Regions from separate parts of the Homo sapiens genome. Here all the other regions are reported to be linked to region 3. Evidence: microRNA targets listed by miRTarBase, many of them from high-throughput screens and not tested one by one. Region 3 holds a microRNA gene; each other region holds the end of a gene's coding sequence.

The links. Region 3 holds the annotated microRNA hsa-miR-6890-5p (CAUGGGGUAGGGCAGAGUAGG, at 1,757-1,777, opposite strand). A microRNA usually pairs through its seed, bases 2 to 8, with sites in the 3' UTR of a target mRNA and lowers its output. Matches are read on the target gene's strand: a 7mer-m8 pairs with bases 2 to 8, a 7mer-A1 pairs with bases 2 to 7 and ends in A, and an 8mer does both.
Region 1: the mRNA of PTGR2 is a reported target of hsa-miR-6890-5p. Seed matches in the 3' UTR shown: 7mer-m8 at 1,529-1,535.
Region 2: the mRNA of ZNF696 is a reported target of hsa-miR-6890-5p. Seed matches in the 3' UTR shown: 7mer-m8 at 2,488-2,494.
Region 4: miRTarBase lists CPNE5 as a target of hsa-miR-6890-5p. Seed matches in the 3' UTR shown: 7mer-m8 at 1,241-1,247 and 7mer-m8 at 1,324-1,330.

What each region holds. Positions count from the first base shown.
Region 1 is chr14:73,883,586-73,888,585 of GRCh38, forward strand. PTGR2 (prostaglandin reductase 2) reads left to right here. Exons shown (of 10, transcript NM_001146154.2): 10 at 516-2,141. The coding sequence ends at 592. ZNF410 (zinc finger protein 410) reads left to right here and starts at 3,274. Exons shown (of 12, transcript NM_021188.3): 1 at 3,274-3,330. RefSeq lists enhancers at 1,523-1,632, 3,264-3,333 and a silencer at 2,934-3,213.
Region 2 is chr8:143,296,497-143,302,111 of GRCh38, forward strand. ZNF696 (zinc finger protein 696) reads left to right here. Exons shown (of 3, transcript NM_030895.3): 3 at 1-3,456. The coding sequence ends at 304. LOC124902037 (a long non-coding RNA gene) reads right to left here. Exons shown (of 3, transcript XR_007061139.1): 2 at 5,514-5,615; 3 at 4,889-5,337. Among named protein-coding and RNA genes, the nearest start is that of ZNF696, 7.9 kb to the left of the region's middle.
Region 3 is chr3:49,098,133-49,103,132 of GRCh38, forward strand. It overlaps MIR6890 (microRNA 6890), which reads right to left and starts at 1,782; the gene lies at 1,722-1,782. It overlaps QARS1 (glutaminyl-tRNA synthetase 1), which reads right to left. Exons shown (of 24, transcript NM_005051.3): 6 at 4,287-4,340; 7 at 4,073-4,133; 8 at 3,696-3,767; 9 at 3,488-3,573; 10 at 3,223-3,309; 11 at 2,443-2,542; 12 at 2,248-2,326; 13 at 2,058-2,166; 14 at 1,829-1,959; 15 at 1,629-1,721; 16 at 1,378-1,515; 17 at 1,212-1,299; 18 at 978-1,121; 19 at 753-857; 3 more. RefSeq lists an enhancer at 2,222-2,722.
Region 4 is chr6:36,737,375-36,743,044 of GRCh38, reverse strand. CPNE5 (copine 5) reads left to right here. Exons shown (of 21, transcript NM_020939.2): 21 at 559-2,270. The coding sequence ends at 777. It also overlaps the pseudogene GPR166P. Among named protein-coding and RNA genes, the nearest start is that of RAB44, 42 kb to the right of the region's middle.

The DNA.
Region 1 (5,000 bases), not on the chromosome of region 3:
GGTGATGCTCCCACCTTAGCCCCCCGAGTAGCTGGGACTACAGGCACACACCACCACTCCCAGCTGATTTTTGTATTTTTAGTAGAGATGGGGTTTCACCATGTTGGTCAGGCTGGTCTTAAACTCCTGACTTCAAGTGATCCACCCACCTTGGCCTCCCAAAGTGCTGGGATTACAGTCGTGAGGCCCCATGCCCGGCCTTCACTCACATTTTATTCCCATTTTTTTTTGCCTCTAGTCTTCAGATACTGTAAACAATGAACATTGATGTGCATACCAGTTAGATACCAATTAAATCTTTCCAGTATGGGCAAAACATTTTTTTAAGATGTTAATTGGGTTAGTTTGTGTGTAACTTTTTACTTGAGATTTCTTTTCATGACCATTTTCTTCTATGCTTAATATTCAAAATCATTGAAAAAGTTATTTAACATAATTTTATATGTTGTACCTTTTGGAAACAAGTATGATAGTGACATTTATCTTTTCAGATAACCTACTTTCTCTTTTTCCAGCTGCATTCCAGTCCATGATGACAGGAGGTAACATTGGAAAGCAGATAGTTTGCATTTCAGAAGAAATCTCTTTGTAATTGCTGTAAATGTCATCAAGGCAATCATAGATTTCTTTTCCATTTTGCATATTTTCAAAGATATGTTAAAAAATCCTTAGACTATACATAGCTCTTGATTTAAATGTGATCATAGGTGTTATTTTTAGTTGCATAGGGTATTTGATACAATCATTAATGGATCATACACAATAGGTTTTTAAAAATTAATAACTTTTAGTAATTACTTTTATTAATTTAAAATAGAACGCTTGAGAGGCACTTTGTAAAGATTTGTTAAACTGGAAACGTTTTACATGATCTGATACAACCATTAATGAATCATACACAATAGGTTTTTTAAAATTAATATTAATAACTTTTATTAATTTAAAATAGAATGCTTAAAATAAAATAGAATGCTTGAGAGGCACTGAGTAAAGATTTGTTGAACTGGAAATGTTTTACATGATTCTTAAACTGAAACTTGGTGTAAAAATAGAATTGAGATGGCCTTTTTTTCACATTGTAGACTGAAAAGAGACTTAATGGTATGATGTGTACATAGGGACTGGGGGCAGGATTGGGGGTTTCGGAGCTTGTGTAACAGTTTTTGGGATAGGAGACCAGCGGTTTTGGGTTGGGATTAGTATGGGAAGATAAATAACTTAGGTTGGTTAAGTTGACAAGATTTACTCCAGAGGATCATCTCTTTGTATTTGCCAAATAATTTACTGTATAGCCTAAAAACTCCATATATATTGAGAAAAGCATATGTTTATTTTAGGTTAGCAGGCACATACTGTCAAGTTGTAAAGATTGAGAGGGCAAACAGATGTAAACATCACTTGTAGGTGATTAAAAAGATTGACAGCCGGGCCTGATGTCTCAAGCCTGTAATCCTAGCACTTTGGGAGGCAGAGGCGGGCAGATCACTTGAGGTCAGGAGTTCAAGACCAGCCTGGCCAACACGGTGAAACCCCATCTCTCTAAAAATACAAAAATTAGCTGGGCGTGGTGGCACACGCCTGTAATCCCAGCTACTCAGGAGGCTGAGGCTGGAGAATCATTTGAACCTGGGAGGGGGAGGTTGCCGTGAGCTGAGCTTGCACCATTGCACTCCAGCCTGGGCGACAAGAGTGAAATTCCATCTCAAAAAACAAAAACAGATTGACAACAAAGACAGTTTCAGAAAATGACAGGACTGGGCAAATTAACAAATGTTTGTAAACATGAATGTTCAGGAACTACTGATGTACCTCAAAAGTTTGTTTTATTAATTGTACTCAACCCTCGCAGAACAGTAAAACTGAAGATTATTGTTTCTGAATGTTTTGGCTTATGATTGTCTACACACTGCCAATATACTTTTGTATGCAACATTTGTAATAAGTAGATTCAAACTGTGTTGGTAATCAGCCTCCCCAGTTTTCGTGAGTGGCCCTTTTTTGTTACTTTTCCTGGACCATTTCATCGCCTGAGGGGGTTTCACTTTTCTCTGTATGTTGCTAACTCCCAAATCTCCATCTGTATTTCTGACCTCTTTCTTGAGCACTGGACCTTTACCTCCAAGTAAATATCCTCAACTCTGGATTGCATCTTATACTCTGCTTTTTTCTTTTCTTTTCTTTTTTGAGATGGAGTCTTGCTCAGTCGCCCGGCGTGCAGCGGCACGATCTCGGCTCACTGCAACCTCCGCCTCCCGGGTTCAAGCGATTCTCCTGCCTCAGCCTCCCGAGTAGCTAGGATTACAGGCGCGTGCCACCACGCCCGGCTAATTTTTGTGTTTTTAGTAGAGACGGGTTTTCACGGCGTTACCCAGGATGGTCTCGATCTCCTGACCTCGTGATCCGCCCACCTTAGCCTCCCAAAGTGCTGGGATTAAAGGCGTGAGCCACGGAGTCCGGCCTACTCTGCTTTTCTAAAGTGGAATTATCTTCCTCTGAAATGTTTCTCCTTTATTTTAAATCACCATTAGTAATTTGTGTACCCAAACCTGTCATCAAGGCTTATCTTTAACCTTGAAAATGCCTTTTTAAAGAGAACTCCTTTAATTCCCACGGTTGAGTCTCTCATTCTTCCGCACGCAAATATTTTAAAATAAGTAATTTCAAGAAGTCAGTCAAACTCACAAAGCTTTAACAAGGTGGCATCCAGCTTGGAAGTCAAGTGTTCAAGCCCGCAGTCGGGACATCCAAGAGCTCTTTACATCCTAATTACAACACGGAACCCAGACTCACTGCATACCCCGTCCCGTATATAATGCAAAACTTGATTCTGCAAGTTCCTTTCTCGGGCGGTGAAACTTCGAAGGTCCTCTCCATGGAGACCTTTGATAAATGTTTAAGCAGTGATCTTTTCTTTCGCGTTTGCCTCCATTGCAACGCCTCCGCTGATGGGAAAAACTACTCCCTCCGCTACTGCGGGGTGGCAGTGACGTCAACGAATTAGCTGACCTGTTTTTTCGGGCTTCGCGGACATAGGAGTCCCGAAGGCCGAGAGTGAGTGAGTGAGTGGGAGCGGGGCGGCTGCGGCTCCTCCTGTCCGGGGCGGAGCCCTGCGTCGCGGGCCTGGGGAGGCCCCGCCAGCACCCTTGACGTCTGGGTCCCGAGCAGTGCGGCAGCCACACGACACTGAGGCGAGCGAGTGGGTGTGTGCGTGGGGGGTCAGCCAAACTTCCTGTCCCGCGCTCGAGCTGCTTCCGGCGGGAGCCGGAAGACGCTGTGTGTGGACGGAATTCGGGACCGACTGACGGCCGGCCGGCTTCCCGGAACTGGAAGGTGAGCTCCGAGGTGGGCCTGGCCACCCCTCCTCGGTTAGGTAGTACCCGAGAGGGCGGGGGCCAGTACCGGCTACTTGGGGCCTGGGGCCGAGTTCGCCCCGAGAGAGGAAACCGCCCTCCTTGGGCATCCCTCCTGGATCTGGCGGGCCCGGGAGCGGCCAGTCTGAAGCCCTGCGGCTTTGGCCCTTCCCCTCGCGGGTTTTTAGGGGCGATGTTCTTGCTCCTTTGCTTGGTTTTGGGGGTAGGGATATAGGAACAGACTGTCCTGAGAAAGCCAGAGTCAGCGAGTCCCCGGGGCGGGGGCTCTTGGACTGCACCCGCAGCCGGGGCCTGCCTACGGACCTTGGGGCCTTATTTCTGAGGCCTTTGTGGTGTGGGGTAGAGGATGCCAGGAGGCCTTGCCCTGAATGTTTCAGTCCAGAGCTACCCTCTCCTTTCATACCACTTACTTTCTGGGTTTGGAAAAGGGACAGCTGCCTACTCGGCTGGGCTGGGTCGCCCGTTTCTCCTTTGCCTGTCAGTTCGGGGGGCAGGAGTGTGTGGATTGTTTACGGCCTTCATACATTTCGTGTCGAATTTATTTTCTGAAGTTTCTCAAGATAATCCAATTTATTAAAGTTTATCCCACTTGATCATGAGGCTCAGAAATGCATTTAGGCACCATTTGGAAGTTAAATATTATTAACTTGGGACTTAAGAATTAGTACTTAGGTTGGAACGAAGGTCAACGCAGCATATTTGCAATAAATAAAAAACATTTGGAAATAAAGTCGGGCATTTTGTTAGGGAGTGAGAAATTGCACTTGGTTTTTTCTTAGTGTGGTGCAGAGTAAAAGACAACTAAAGTAGCAGTCAGAAGTTTTAAGTTCTAGTTTTTTACGTTTTGCATCTAAGTAGATGTCTAATTTTTGGCAAGTTGCTGAATCTCTAGCTCTGGGGAGTTTTTCTGTAAACGAAGGGGTTTACCTTTAGGGCTATGACAATTTTTCCGAGGCACTGAACTTTGAGTAGAAGTGACATAAGCATTTCTTTGTTTTGGAAAGATAACTTGAATGGCTGCATAAAGGATGTATTGGAAAGAGGAATTTTAAACGCGGGGTGACCAGTTAGAGGCCTGTTTTAATAGTATAGTAGAAAGTTACTGAGAGACCTAAACAGGGCATTACAGTAGGGAACAGAGAACATTCTGGGAACAGAGAATCACGGGAATTATTTAAAAATGGAGAATGAGAGAGATTTAAAGACCTAGAATTTGCAGCTGAGTGGGAGGAAGATTGGGCGATCATTGAAATAGGTAATACAAGAAGAACAGGTTTGGTAAGGAAGATAATAATCTGGATTTTGGACATTGTTAGGTTTGAGATGCTGTTGGATATACATGTGGAGATACCTAGCAAGCAGTTAGAAATGAAGGTTTGGAGTTCAGAAGAGATGACTAGAGAAAAATGTAGGTATCATTTGTAGTGTCATTCATTCATTATACAAATATTTAGTACCTACCAGTTGCTTACTGGGAAGCTTGTATGGAAGCCCTTTAAGCTCATAGTAAACACATTAGAAGTGGGAAGTGACCGTTAATGGGCACAGGGTTTCCTTGTGAGGTGATGAAATATTGTAAAATTGATCGTGGTTCTGCTTGTACAACTCTGAATGAACTAAAGATATTTT
Region 2 (5,615 bases), not on the chromosome of region 3:
CAGCCAGAGCTCCAACCTCCTCCAGCACCAGCGCGTGCACACGGGGGAGCGGCCCTTCGCCTGCCAGGACTGCGGCCGCGCCTTCAGCCGCAGCTCCTTCCTCCGCGAGCACCGCCGCATCCACACCGGGGAGAAGCCCCACCAGTGCGGCCACTGCGGGCGCGCGTTCCGGGCGCTGTCGGGCTTCTTCCGGCACCAGCGACTCCACACGGGCGAGAAGCCGTTCCGCTGCACCGAGTGCGGCCGCGCCTTCCGCCTGAGCTTCCACCTCATCCAGCACCGGCGGGTGCATGGCGCCGAGTGAGCCGGGGCTGCGGCGGAAGAGATGCCGGCGGCCTGGTGGGCGCGAGGCCGAGGCCGGGGGAGGCTCCTGTCCGCCCCGTGCGCGGTGAGGAAGTAACAGCCGGCTGCGCGCCTGGTTCTCGGGTTGCGAAAGCCTCGCCAGGCCTGCATCCGCCTTGGCTTGGGAGCAATCAGGAGAGACAGGGCTCGGGGAAGGCGAGCGCTGCCCGCGGGAGGCGATTCCCAGAGGCGGGGAGGTCTCAGGGGTCTGTCCCGGGCCGGCCGCCCGCCTCTGAGACTCCCCGCCTCCCACGGTCAGCTGCTGCGGGGCAGTGGCCGGTGATTGAATCGGTCATTCCTCCGCAACCAGGCCTCCATCAAAACCCTGCATGAGATGAGGGCCTCGGGCTTCGGGTTGGTGAAGGCGGGGTGGGGGGGCAGTTAGGAAGGGGGCGCCCAGACAGGGCATGGAAGCCTCGCGTCCTCCCCCGTACCTTGCGGGTCGGTGGTTCATCCATGTATTTCAACGCCTTTTCACAGCCGGTTCATATGGTCCCGACTTCTGTGTGCTTAGAAAATTATGGAACTTGGCCGGGTGCGGTGGCTCCCGCCTGTAATCCTAGCACTTTGGGAGGCCGAGGCGGGCGGATCACACGGTCAAGAGATCAAGACCATCCTGGCCAACATGGCAAAACCCCCATCTCGACTAAAAATACAAAAAATTAATTGGGCGTGGTGGCGTGCGCCTGTAATCTCAGCTACTTGGGAGCCTGGGGCAGGAGAATCACTTGAACCTGGGAGGCGGAGGTTGCAGTGAGCGGAGATCTGGGCACTGTACTTTAGCCTGGGCGACAGAGAGACCCATCTCAAAAAAAAAATTGGAACCTGAGAAGGGGGTCGTGGGGTCCCCGGGGCCCACCGTCTGCACTTGGCATCTGAAGTCGGGGTGGTCTTGTGGGACTGACCCCTTACCCTGTGGGTTCTGCACTAGCTCCGGGCAATTGGTGACAGAATCGAGTTAAATTGTAGGACATCGCGTTGGTGTCTGAGAGGGAGTTGGAGAGCTGGTTGGTGTGGAGGGAAAGGCTTACACACATGTGATTTCAGAAGCGTTCTGTGGGTAGAGGAATCGTTTTCTCTTTGAGACTGTTATGAGTATGTACAAATGTTATTTCCTGTAAAATATTTTCATTTTTTAAAATGTTATTTTCTAGATAGAAAAGTAGAAGTGTCTCTTTGGGGAGCGTTTTTGGGGGCGTATAGTAAAGCTCTGTCATCATGAATTAAGCGAGGTGGGCTTTGAGTTTCTTGGGATGACAGGGAAATGTGAGCCGCCTACTGGCCGTGAGCCCCTGGGGTGCGGTTGCAGGATTCGCCCATCCTGGTCTGGGTGTGGCTTGTGACCACCTCCTGCAGTTCTCTGCCCAGGTAAGGACTAATTGGGAAGAATTCTGGGTCCTGAGCTGGCTGCCGCTTCCAAGACAGTCGCTTTGAGGGCTCTTGGCACCGATTTTGTTAAAATGCATGAGCTTAGGGTTGTGCAGCCTGTAGGGGCAGGGGTGGTCTCAGAATGGATTTGGTGGCCCCACCGTTAATTAAGCTCCTGACCCCTGGGCCGGTGGTGAGGTGGGAAGATGAGCCTGTGTCTCCCATGCTGAGCCAAGATCCTCAGGTACCAGTAGCGGTCAAAGCACCTGCTCCCTGAAGGAAGCTTACCTGGCTTAGCCTCATTCCTGCTCGTAAGTCAGGCATTCAGCTTGCAAAGATCCCCAAGCACACAAGGAGAGTCAGCTGACTGAGGGCCAACAGAAACAGCAGGCAGCCGCTGTCAGCCACAAAGAAACGCAGATCCTGAAACTGTCATCATACAGGTGAGAGGATAGTTATGTGTGAGGTGTTCAAAGAAGTCGCGCAGTCAGTGATGAGAAAGCTGTAGGGTACATACTGTCACGCATGAATAGGCAGGACTCCTTAAAGAACTTTTGGAAATGAAAAACAGGCCAGGTGCAGTGGTTCATGCCTATAATCCCAACACTTTGGGAGGCCTAAGGGGGAGGATCACTTGAGCCTAGGAGTTCAAGACCAGCCTAGGCAACATAGGGCTGGGCACGGTGGCTCACGCCTGTAATTCCAGCACTTTGGGAGGCTGAGGCAGTGGATCACCTGAGGTCAGGAGTTTGAGACCACCCTGGCCAACATGGCAAAACCCCATTTCTACTAAAAATACAAAATTAGCTGGGCATGGTGGCCCACACCTGTAATCCCAGCTACTCGGGCAGCTGAGGCAGGAGAATCCCTTGAACCTGGGAGGCAGAAGATGCAGTGAGCCGAGATCACGCCATTGCACTCCAGCCTGGGCAAAAAGAGCAAAACTCCATCTTAAAAAAATAAATAAATAAAGGAAAATGAGCCGAGTGATGGTCTTAGATATAAGATGGAATGGCAAGCAAATAAAATTATAAATATGAATACATATGTATATATAAAAGAATAGTGTCAACTAAAATACTAGACAACAATAGCATGTAAATTAGAAGGGACAGAAATGTTCTAAGACCCTCCGGTTGTTGGGAAGAGGGTGTAAGATAGTGTTTAATTTGACTTTGATAAGTTAAATGTGCATAGTGTAATTTAATGTTAATTACTAAAAGAGTGTAACCAGTCTATACATCTCTAATCCAATAAAAAGAATAAAACACTGTGATTTAAAATGTAGTCCCAGCTGCTTGGGAGACTGAGGCAGGAGGATCTCGGCTTGGATCCTCAGACCAGGAGTTTGAGGCAGCAGTGAGCTACGATTGTGCCGCTGCACTCCAGACTGGACAACACAGTGAGAGCCCATAAAATAAATAAATGAACTGAACACAAACTTCTGTCAATTAAAAAATAAGAACGAAATCAGGCTGGGCCTGAGCGCTGTGGCTCACACCTGTAATCCCAGCACTTTGGAGGCCAAGGTGGGTGGATCGCTTAAGCCCAGGAGTTCGAAACCAGCCTGGGCAACATAGGGAGAACCTGTCTCTACAAAAAATACAGTAAGTAAGCCTATAGTTCCAGCCACCCAGGAGGCTGAGGTGGGAGGATCACCTGAGCCTGGGAGCTCGAGACTGCAGTGAGCTGTAGTCATACCACTACACTCCAGCCTGGGCAAAAGAGTGAGACCCTCTCTCAAAAAAGAAAAAAAAATCAGAAACAAACTGGGCAAATTAAGATGGTGGAAACAAAACTAAATATGTCCCTAACGACAGTAAGCTGTATAGAATTGCCGGTTGACAGGTAAAGGTTAGGACTGGGTGCAGTGGCTCATGCCTGTAATCCCAGCACTTTGGGAGGCCGTGGTGGGTGGATCACCTGAGGTCAGGGGTTTGAGACCAGCCTGGCCAACATGGTGAAACCCCGTCTCTACTAAAAATACAAAAATCAGCCAGTTGTGGTGGTGCATGCCTGTAATCTCAGCTACTCGGGAGGCTGAGACAGGAGAATGGTTTGAACCTGGGAGGCGGAGGTTGCAGTGAGCCAAGATTGCGCCACTGCTCTCCAGCCTGTGTGACAGAGTGAGACTGTCATACACACAAACACACATAAAGATTAGGAGGAAAATCTGTGACCCAGAGTCACACACATGAAGACAGACAGGAGGGAGGCGTGAGTCAACCAGGGGAAGAAAGGCAAGCTCAGGTGCCATATGAAGTCCAGAACATTGTTTTAAAAAGGAAACTCAAAAATAATGATGGGCCAGGCATGGTCGCTCACCCCTGTAATCCCAACACTTCGGGAGGCAGAGACGGGCGGATCACTTGAAGTCAGGAGTTCGAGACCAGCCTGGCCAACATGACAAAACTCCATCTCTATTAATAATACAAAAATTAGCCAAGTGTGGTGGTCTGCGCCTGTAATCCCAGCTACTTGGGAGGTTGAGGCACGAGAATCGCTTGAACCTGGCAGGCAGATGCTGCAGTGAGCCGAGATTGCGCCACCGTACTCCAGCCTGGACTTCACTCAACCTGGGAGGCAGAGGTTGCAGTGAGCCAAGATCGCACCGCCAACTCCAGCCTGGGCGTTACTCAACCTGAGAGGCGGAGGCTGCACTGAGCCAAGATCACACCGCTGACTCCCAGCCTGGGTGTCACTCAGGCTCAGTGAGACTCCACCTCGAAAAAAATAAAAAAATAATAAAAATGTCTTAGAGATGGAAATGTAATGGGCAAAATTAAATTAGCAAGAAGGTGGAAAGTGGAGAAAATCTGTTTGAAAGAATGAAAAGACAAGAAGGTGGGTGACAGGATAGAAAGATTAAGACTAACAGGAATTCCAAGGAGGGGAAAACAAAAACAGAAAATGGTGGGAATGAAGTTATTAGAGAAATAATTTTCCCCCAGAACCGAGAAACATGAATCTCCAGAGTAAAAGCACCTACCGATATCTCGCACAAAGATGGAAGGAACGACCTACATCCAGGCATGACGTGAAACATCAGACAGTCCAGGACATAGAGACGATCTGAAAGCGCAGATCACACACACAGGCTGAGGAATAAATCCCTTCCCAAGGGCAGACTGGAAGTTAGAAAATGACAGAACAATGCTTCGAAAATTACAAGTGAAAATAATTTCCAACCTAGAACTTTATACCTACCCAAGTGGTCAGTCAAGTGTGACAGTATGACAACATTTTCAGATATGCAAACTCTTACTTTTAAAAATTCATTTTCAAAATACATGTTTTCAGGAGCCTACTAAAGGAGGAGCTCCAAATCAAGGGAGCAAACCAAGAAAGAGGAAGAAGGGGCTGGCCACTGTGCTGTAATCCCAGCACTTTGGGAGGCTGAGGCAGGTGGATCATGAGGTCAGGAGTTCGAGACCAGCCTGTCCAATATGGTGAAACCCCGCCTCTACTAAAAAATACAAAAATTAGCTGGGTGTGATGGCGCGTGTCTGTAGTCCCCACTACTCAGGAGGCTGAGGCAGGAGAATCGCTGGAACCCGGGAGGCGGAGGTTGCGGTGAGCCAAGATCACACCACTGCACTCCAGCCTGGTGACAAAGCAAGACTCCGTCTTAAAAAAAAAAAAAAAAGGAAGAAGTGGAATCTTGTAAATGGGGTTTCATAGAAAAAAAGTGGTGAGGGGCATCCCCACGTGACAACGGAGCCCCAGGGCTGGGCAGAGAGAGCCGCGTGTCCTGGGACCGTCCGATATTTCCCACAGTCCACTCTGGAGCCACAGTGACTTACTTTCCTTCCACAAGTGAAATATGCTCGCCACCCCCCACTCAAGCCACCCAGAGGTCTCTTCCTGCTGCTGTCTCAGCTCAGAGGCCGTCAGCTCATGATTCT
Region 3 (5,000 bases):
TCAGGCAACCATCCAACCAGGGAGGCCTACCTCCCTCACCCCAAACCTCATGAACCTACCAGGTTCAGGTCACTTAAAAATCCACCAGGCACCTCAGTAGGATCTTCAGGGTTCTTGTGCTGGAATCTGCAGCCAAAGTGAAGGTCATACCCCCAGCTGGGCAGCCATAGCAGGCAATGTGCATCTTGTACCTGCCCCCACCCCAGCTCTGTTCACTCACAGTCGCTCATAGAGGCGAACCTCACACATCAAAGGCTGTGACACCCAGTGAATAAAGGCCTTTGGCTTCTCTCCAGCATCTGCCCGTCTGCAGGTCACCTCCAGACTCTCTACACAACCACTGGGGCCCTGGAAGTGGGGGGAGGGGAGCAGCAATTAGACCCGGGAACCACAACCAGGACTGCAGGCTATACTCACATCTTGGCCCCAGCAGGCACTGCAGTAGGAAGGCTGCAGCTGGCTCTCACCTTGACAACATGCTGCAGCTCAATGACGTAGCCTGTATGCCTCAGGCCCACAGGCTGGCCCCAAGCCAGGCGCTTAAATCCTGGCTCTGGCTCCTAGAGATAGGAAGTGGGGTAGACACATGAGGCTGCAAGGGTCAAACAAGTGGGGAAGCTTCCCTACCCCCGTGTCTGGCAAAGATTGGTTCATCTGAAGCAGGAAGTAGATGGACTGACAGAGATGAGGAGATGAAAGGTTCCCAGTACCAGACTCAGCAGCAAACGGGACCCTCCACCCCCACAATTTACCTCCTTGAAGTCAGTCCTCTCAATGAAGACAATGGGTGCAAAGGGAACCTGATGGAAGCCTTTGGTCTCATCAGCTGGGAAGTTGGGCACCTGGATGTCCAAGGACTATAGCAGGAGACAGGAGACAGGTATGAGTCATACTCAGCATTAGGACCCCCATGCCCAGAGCCAAGTGTACCCCCAGCTACACACACACATGTGACACACATGTTGAGGCAGGCCCACCTTGGCAGCAGGAAAGTTGGTGATGATGACCCGTAGTGACTCCAGCACAGCCATGGCTCGTGGGGCTGTGTCATTCAGCACATCACGCACACAGGCTTCTAGAAGATGTGGCTCCATTGTGGTTTGTGCCACAGTCACTCCCACCTGGCAGGAAAGTTCAGCATCAGTCACAGCTACAATCACAAACTGCCACACTCAACCCCCAATGTATCTACCCAACCTGCTGGGCTATACCCGGGCACAGAAGTTGTTGATGGCCTCAGGTGGGAAGCCCCGCCGTCGCAGGGCCGTGAGTGTAAAGAGCCGTGGGTCATCCCAGTCCCTGTGGATAAGAAGGTGGTGAGAAGGCCTTTGGGAGCATATGCCATTAACCTTTCATAAGCCAAACAGCCGCACCTACCGCACAGCACCAGTTGCTACAAGCTGGAGGATCTTCCTCTTAGAGACAACAGCATAGTGCAGGTTGAGGCGGCCATACTCCCACTGCACAGGGCAATAGACGTCCAGTGCATTGCAAAGCCAGAAGTAGGAAGAGCGTCTGGGGTGGGAGAGTAGGGTTAGCACTGGCCAGCTCTGGAACCAGGCAGAGACCACAGGAAGGGCTGCTGGAATTCCACTGGCCCTACCACCCCATGGACCCAGCTCCCTCACCGGGCCTGGAATTCCTTGGTGCAGAGTGAGTGAGTGATGTGCTCGATGGAGTCACAGAGGCAGTGTGTGTAGTCGTAGGTGGGATAGATGCACCTGTGGGGCATAGGCAGTGGGCCCTACCATCCAGCCCTACTCTGCCCTACCCCATGGCCCATCGCCCTGCTCGGCAGCCCCACCACCCCACCCCATTCTACACCCACCATTTGTCCCCTGTGCGGTGGTGTGGTGTATACTTGACTCGATAGGCTACAGGGTCCATCTTGCCATCCTCCATCACCAGCTTCATCCGTAGTGTGGCCTCGCCCTCTGAAAACTTGCCCTTGCGCATTGCCTGAGGGGAACAAGGACTCAGGCTGTCTCTAAGCACAGGAGCATCTCATTCTCAGCACCTTGGCCCACCCAAACCCAGATGCTCCTCTAGGACCCCACCTCAAAGAGCAGCAGTGACTCCTCCATGGGACGGTCTCTCCAGGGTGAAGGCAGAGTATTATGGCCTTTGAGCTCCTCTCCTCGCTGGTGGCACACATAAGCCAGACCCCTGTGGGGAAGCGGTGTGAGTGCCCAGCATGGCTGTGACCTAGTCAGTCTGCCTGGCTCTACGTCATGGCCCTGGCCTTACCTGCGGATGAGCTCCACAGCCCACGCATATAGCTGGTCAAAATAGTCAGACGCATATGTGACTTTGTAAGGTGTGTAGCCTGGGGCAAAATGAAACAAAGTATGAGCAGCCAGCCACAAACACCCAGTGGGCAGGCCATGGCCCAAGGAGAGGCCCACTAACCACCAGCCCTTCTAGGCTTTGCCTAGTCCATACCTAGCCAGGCTACCATGTCACAGATGGCCGTGAAGAACTTTGCTTCCTCCTTCTCAGGGTTGGTGTCATCAAAACGCAGAAAACAGATGCCATTGTTGGCCTAGGAAAGTTGCACCATCTGTGAACTCCCACATCATCCATCAGCCCCACAATCCTGTTTATCAAACTAGGATATTCACAGAGCACTCTCATGTCAGAATTTTCTTTTTTTTTGAGATGGAGTCTTGATTATCTTGCACCATCTTGGCTCACTGCAGCCTCCACCTCCTGGGTTTCTCCTGCCTCAGCTTCCCAGTAGCTGAAACTACAAGCGTGTGCCACCATGGCCAGCTAACTTTTGTATTTTTAGTAGAGATGGGGTTTCACCATGTTGGCCAGATTGGTTTCGAACTCCTGACCTCAAGTGATCCACCCACTTTAGCCTCCCGAAGTGTTGAGATTACAGGCGTGAGCCACCCAACCCGGACTCATGTCAGAATTAAAAATGTCTTCAAGAGCTTCTCTCACCTTCCTGTATCTAACCTAGCATCTTTCTAAGCCTAGGGACTGCACTGGCAACTCCCCCAAATTTGAACTCACTGACTCCTCAGAGGGAGGGAGCTATTTATTCCAATAAGCTCAATAGATTCCTAGGTATCTGTCACACATGTGGTTCCTTTCCATGGCCTCTGCCCACCTGGGTACATTATTGGGAGCAGACAGCAAGGCAGGGATATGGTATCCACTCATGGGAACAGCAAGTGGTCATCTTGCTTGCCAGGTCCCTAGACACATGCTTACCTTGGCATAGCCAAAGTTGAAATTGATGGCTTTGGCATGTCCAATATGCAGGATTCCATTGGGTTCTGGCGGGAACCGGGTACGTACCTAAAATAAGGGGGATGGGAAAAGAGAAATAAAGTCTGAGCTCAGATGACCTTAAAGAAACAGATGTTCCCTCCCAGGAAGGCCATGGTGATGGGTGAGATGGGGCAGTATGGACGCAGCCCAGGCACTCAGGCAGGTGTTTGATGGCACAAGCTCACATGGCCACATCCCCACACACCTGCCCACCAGTAATCTCCAGGTGCTGCTTTAGTAGATTCATGGTGTGTGGAGTGACCACATAGCCTGGGGTCTTGTAGTTCTCACCTGCCAGGACCAGAATAAGCCTAAGGACCAGGCTGCAGCCAAAGCCTCTGACCCCAGGGGCCTGACTATAGGAGCTGCTGCCAAGATCCAGCCCTCCCCAGGGTTTTGACATGCCCACTAACCAGGCTTGTGGAACTTAAGGGCCTCCCCCCGGAGCTGCTCCATCAGAGACAGGGTCTGGTCAGCAGTCTCGCCTGTGGGGAACAAAACAAGGAAAACTTGTCCTCTAGATACATTTACCATATCCTACAGCCAGAACAGAACTGAGTAGACCCCTATTCCCTCAATTCCAGAGACAAGATATCTAGAGCCAGACATCTGAGGCCTCTCATGCCAGTCTCTGGGCAAAGGGAACAAAAGAAACACCAGGAATCCCAGTCTTGAGACAGAAGTCAGGGTACTGAGTAAGCCAAGGGCCTGAGGAGCCTGTAAGGACTCTTCTGAGGAGGTTCAGAAGTCAGGGAGCTGAATGCTGTGACAGGAGTCTCAAGCTTCTCACCATTCTCCACCACATCCTTTGCCGTCCTCCGGTCTGTTTCTTCTAGCCGAGCTTTTGCCACCTGAAAGAAGCCCCAGGTGCTTCAGAAAATGGCATCAAATTTTCTCTTGGATAGGGTCTTGGGATCCCTGTGGTCAGACACTTCCTTCCCCAGCCTGAAGTCTCACCATACCTCACCTCACCCTCAGGGACTCAGGGCCATGCCCATCCCTACCTTGAACTTCTTCTCCAGATCAGCCTCCAACTTGGGGCCCAGAAGGTGGAGGACCTGAGCAGAGACCAGAATCAGGCAGAGGCAGGAGTATCCTCTTTCAAGGAGCCCCTGACTGATCCTACCCACCAACCCAAGGCTTCCTGGCCTATCTACCAGCACTGACTGAAAAAACCTACCTAGCCCATCCCATCTCTTCTCATGTGGGTCTGCTAGCTTAAAATGCTCTTGCTCTTGTTGCCCAGACTGGAGTCTTGCTCATGTTGCCCAGGCTGGAATGCAATGGCACAGTCTCCGCTCACTGCAACCTCCGCCTCCTGGATTCAAGCGATTTTCCTACCTCAGCCCTTCTGAGTACCTGGGACTGCATGTGCCCGCCACCACACCCAGCTAATTTTTGTACTTTTTGTAGAGATGGGGTTTCACCATGTTGGCCAGGCTGTTCTCAAACTCCTGACCTCAGGTGATCTGCCCACCTCAGCCTCCCAATAGTGTTGGGATTACAGGTGTGAGCCACCATGCCCAGCCCCCTCCCACCTTTTTTTATTGTTGTTGATTTTGAGACAGGGTCTCATTCTGTACTCCAGGATGGAGTGCAGTGGTGCAATCAGAGCTTACTGCAGCCTTGATCTCTTAGATTCAAGCAATCTTCCCACCACAGCCCCACAAATTGCTGGGACTACAGGTATACACCACCATGTCTGGCTAATTTTTAAA
Region 4 (5,670 bases), not on the chromosome of region 3:
GCAAGACAACCTGGGAGGTGGGACCGGCCCATGCTAAGGCCTGGAGGCAGGAGTGAGCCAGAAGAGGCGCTCAGGATGGAGGGCACCCCCGGGAAGAAGCCAGATGGGCCTGGCATTAGGCATTGGCCAGATTAGCCCCAGAGAGAAAAGGAACGAAGAGAGGCCAGAGAGAGAGGGCTCTGCTGGACAGGTCGGGGGAAACCCAGGAGGGCACGTGCCCCAGAAGTCAGGGATTCAGTTGGCATTTCGGAAGCACCTACTCAGAGCCTGTGCTTAGTGCCGAGGTGGAGAAATCGTGTTCAGTGGTGTGTCCTGGTGTGGAATAGGGCTCAGTTTTTGTCGAGTGAATGAAAGAATAGTGACTATGACTATAGTTACTGACTGCCCAAACCCAGGGAGTTGAGGGATACAGTCCCTCAGGTAATTCAGAAAGGTGGGGGGATTGAGTCAAGTGAGCAGAGGCTGGGAGGGGGGTGGGGATGCAACCCCAGGCCTGGAGATTTTGGGGGCCAGGGTCCCACAGGAGGCACTGCCTGACCCTGCCCTCCCACTTGCCAGTTTGTACCCTTCCGGGACTACGTGGACCGCACAGGCAACCACGTGCTGAGCATGGCCCGCCTGGCCCGAGACGTGCTGGCAGAGATCCCTGACCAACTGGTGTCCTACATGAAGGCACAGGGCATTCGCCCGCGTCCCCCACCCGCAGCACCAACCCACTCGCCCTCGCAGTCCCCAGCCCGCACGCCCCCTGCGTCCCCCCTGCACACGCACATCTGAACCTGGTCTCAGCAGGCAGGTGGCTGGGGCCTGGGAGAGGCCAGGTGAATGGGAGGCCAGGGCCCCAGACTCCCCGAAGTTGGCCTGCCCGGCCTTTGGGACATCTGTGTGCCTGGGAGGCTGCCAGGGGGTGGGGCTTCTGAAGACCCCTCCTCAATTTCTTGGCCTCACTTATTGCCCAAACCCAGGGAGTTAGGGGGGTACGGGTGAAAGAGGGGTACACAGGGACCCAGCCCTTCTCTTCTTCCCCAATACCTGGCTCTAACCCAGCCAGGAAGGTGTAAACAATAAGGGTGATTGGGGTCCCTGTCGCCCACCCCCGGCAATCCTATTTGCTTACCTGTCACCCTGAAGCCTGGGCTTGGCCTCCTCCAGCCCCCCATCTCCGTCCCATCCTCCCATGGTGTCTACTCCTGTCCCTGAGCCCCGCCCTGTGGTCTATCCTGTGCCCGATTTCCAGTGAACCCCATGAAGCTGATGGGTTTGCAGGAAGGCCTGAACATGTGCACCCTCCCAGGGACACTGGATGCGCTGGGAGCCCCGGGGACCCCATGGGGTGCTGTAATCATGGACCGTAGGCCATGTGATGGGCCTGAAGTGGAGGCTGCTCAGCACAGAGCCCTTTCTGGTGCCTCTCGAACTCAGTACGATGCAAGTTCTAGACACACAGATGGCCTGTGGAGGCCTCTCCCTGGTGTGGGCCCACAGGTACTTCCATGGTTGACTCCTGGCTTCAGGAATCCCTTCCTCCCTCCAGAGGCTTCCCAGGGCCCTCGGTGCCCACGCCTCTGCCCATCTGGAGGCCTGAGTAAGGAGTGGCTCAGCCCCACGTTCCCACACTGCTCCTGCTCTTTGCCCTGTATCCCATGAGGCTAGGAGACAGGAGTCCTGGGTTTGAGCCCTGCCTCCCCCCACTGCCTAATGTGGGAACCCAAGCAAGGCCCTTCTACCTTTTGGGCCTCAGTTTCCATGTCTGTACCACAAGAGGGTTGACCAGATGGCCCCAGGTTTTCCTTTAGGTCTGACATCCTGAGGGTCATTCATCCCATGCCCAGTTCCCCCCATCCTACTCCTAACAGATGTGACCCTACTTGAGGCCGCCTTGGCTTTTGGGTCACCCTGTCTCATCCCATCACCCCAAACATACCCTAGTCCTTCAGCCTGGGGCTCTGGCATCTGAGCCCGAGCTCCTGCCCCTGCTGTGGGAAAGGTGGGGAAGAAGGGGATCTCCCTCCCGGGCCCACCCAGCTGCCCAGCCTTTGCCCACTCGGGGAGCAGATCATGCATGCCAATCCCTGTTGCCGCATGGAGCTCCTCAGCCCACTGACCTCTCCGTGCCTGGTGCAGGCCAGGCCCCCGTCTTCCGCCTGCCTCTGCTTCCCCGTCATGCATGGTGGTGGTGTTTCTACGGTGTCTGGTTCTGTGCCCGTCTCTGAGACAGTCTCTGTGTGGAATTTGCCTTAAACTGAAGTAAATTTGGTTCTTTTAGTAAAGCACGAAGTTTTTCTTTCTTCTCTGAAAAATAGCACTGACGTTGCTGCTTGACAGGGTCCAGTTCTCCTCTGTGGCTTCCTTCAATTGTTTGCTTCAGTGAGATTTACAATCAAAGGCCACGTGCCACGCTCTGTGCTAGGCATTGAGGATGCAGCCATGAACAAAGCACAGACCCTGTCCCTGCACAGGGCTTACAACACACACACAGATAATATGGGAGAGACCCAGCAAACACATCAACAAATAGGCTAGTAACATCATTTCAGGTGGTAGCAAGAGTTCTAAAGACACATGAGGGAGAAGGAGGGTGATGTTTTCGATGAGGTGGTCAGAGAGGGCCTCTCAGAGGAGGTCATGGTTGAGGTGAGCCCCCAGGAAGTAAGACAGGGAGCCACGCTGATATCTGGGGAAGGGAGCTCTAAGTAGAGGGACCAGCAGGCGCAAAGGCCCTGTGGTAGGAGCTTCCTTGGTGCATTTGCAGGAGAGCGAGGCCAGTGTGGCTGGAGCTGAGTGCAGGAAGGGAAAGTGCTAGAGATGGGGTCGGAGAGGTGAAGAGGCCAGAATGCACAGGCCGCATAGGCCATGATGAGGCCTTTGGCATTTACTGAGTGAAACGGGAAGCCATTGAGGAGGTGAGAGAAGTGAGTAACATCATCAGAATTTCCTCTAAAATAAACGGATTGCTTTATTGCATTTGATCACTCATTCACTCATCTCTCAACAAGTATTTACCAAACATGAGTGCCAGGCCCCACTCACGTATTGGAGACCATGCTGGAGATGCACACACAGAATTGCACCCTCAGGGGTGCCCCTGCTCTGGGGCAGTGAGCGAGGAAATACTACAACCATGGGGTACTGATGCCAAGCCATCAGGAGGGGCTGGGTAATCTGTGGGCACCAGAGTCACTGTGCCATGAGGAGGAGTCTGGCATCCCCTGTGCAATGGGGTCGTCACCACCACCCCCATCCTTGCAGGGTCATCGTGTGGCCAGAGTGACGAGTACATAAGGTTGCATGTGACATATGTGACATGCGCCCAGGACCCATGGCATTTTAGGTGCCCAAGAAACACTGTTTTCCTCTTGTTCCTCTTCACATATAAATCCCTGTGGCCATCAGGGACCAGGATCATAGCAAAAGGGGATTTCTCCCTTCTCTGGGCAAGTTTGTTCCCAGATTAGCCCTCCAGGCAGCCATTCCCACCCTGAACATCACAAGAAATTTGGAACTAATTATACCAAAGTTTGGGACTTGTTTACTTCTTATGATTTTATAGTAAATGGGTGCTGATTCACGGCTGTCCCTATAATTACATGCCCCTGTGACTTACATTCTGATATGCTTTGAGTGGGAACAGGGTGGGGTCACAGCTTGGAAGGAGGGAAGTTCCCATAACCAGCAGCTCATGTCACCTCACCACAGGGGCCGTGGGAAAGTGTCAGGAGAGGGTGCTTGCCTGGCAGGGGGACTGAGGCACAGAGCCACTGCCGGGGGCGGGACGGGACACCAAGAGCATCTTTGCTGTGCCCAACACCGTAGCATCTTGTGGATTCTTTCCCAAGGTGTGTTCCACAGAATACTGGCTCTCTGGCATGGAGTTTGGGAACCTGCCTGCTGTGCGTCCCTCTCGAGAGTCTCAGTGGCCTTTTGGGTATTCAAGGCTCTGGTAAGTCCTACAGCAAAGGGACCAGTATGATTTGGTTCAACCCAACGTTTCTCAAGCTTTGTATCACAGAGTCAGTGTGTGTATGTGTGTTTTGCTGGTAACACCGTCACCAAGCAGAACGTGCTGTCTTGGGAATTTCAGTAGAGACAATCTCCCGGGTTTCCAGGCCAACATGGAAGCCTGAAGCCTGCCCTGAGCAGGCCAGAGGGAGGGCACTGAGGGTGGGAAAAATGGAAACCTCAAATTGGGCTCTGGAGAGAAGAAAAGGGCTCTGAAAGGGATCCCTGCCCCAGGTGCTTCAGGAAGAGAAGCCACAGGGAAGAAAGGAGGGCTTCAGACATTCACAGTCCCGGAGTCATGGCTGCATGGTTGACTGGATTTTTGTCCCCCTATTGGACTGAGGGGTGTGTGGAACAGAGCTGGAGGGGTGGGCAGAGAGGGGAAAGGCTGTCCTGCCTCTGAGCTCACCCCCCAGGCTGTGGCTGGCCCTCTGCTCCCCCTACTCAATCTCCTGGCCTTCAGGATTAAGGACCCTAGGCTGTTACCCCCCAGATCATTCTCCACCCACTTCTCTGCCTTTGGAAGCCCCTCTGTCCTCCTCTTGTCCACTCACCTCAAATACCCCTGAATTAATACAAATAAAATAATAATAGTAGCAATGACCAGCACGCATATGCACTTACTAAGCATCCTTCTAAGCACTTTACATGTGTTTAGCAAATTCATCTTCATAACAACCCTGTGAAGAAGGTATGTACTGTCATCATCCCATTTTCCAGATGAGAACACTGAGACACAGAGGCTCAAGATCACACAATTAGAGAGCAGTGGAGCCTACAGAGATCTGAGCCTGAAAGTGGAGTGGGAGGATCCATCTGGTTACCTAGAGATGTGAGCTCTAGCTGAGCCATTTAGTTGCTTTGTGACCTTGTTTGGGCCATCTGCCCTCTGGGTCTCAGTCTCTCCACTGGTAAAATAGAGGGGATGGGCTGTCAGGTCCCTAAGGGTCTTCCCATCTCCCTTGAATCTCAGCGCATCCATCAGCCTATACTCTTAGACCCCCGCCAGGCCCCACAGGCCTCCTGAGGCCCTGTCACGGCCAGGCTGGACAGTCGCCACCACTGAGGCTGCCACTCCCACACCTCTGGGATGCCTGGCCATCATCGGCCTGCAGAAGAGGTCCCTGAGTCCTGCCTGGAAGGGGCGGGAGAGGTAGAAGCAGAGGATAGGGCTGACAGCGCAATTGGAGTAGGCCAGGATGGTGCAGAGGCTGGAGGCCACAAAAGCAGCCGGTGTGGCAGGCAGGTAGCCCATGGCTGCCACATAACCCAGCATGGAGCAGGGCCCCCACATCAGCACAAAAACCACCAGCACCACAAGGCTGAGCCCTATGTTCTCTTAATGCTCCTGGATGCTCTCTCCCATGGGACCTTGGGGCTGGGTCCACAGGAGCCAGCCCACGTGGCTGAAAGAGCAGCCCAGCCCCAGCGTGCATGGCAGGAAGGCCAGGGCTCCCAGCAGGCTGATGTAGCAGGAGGTCCCAGCAGGGCTCAGGAGCAAGAGGCAGGCCTGGGTCTTGGGAGCCCCCGCTGTCTCCTCCTCCACTGCCACCCTCTGGAACAGCCAGTTGGGCAGGGATTCTGTAAGGCCCAGGGCCCACATGGCCCCACAGAGCAGCAAGAGGGTGCCCCAGCCGGCTGGGAAGGCCAGGTCAGGCCGGGCCACAGCCA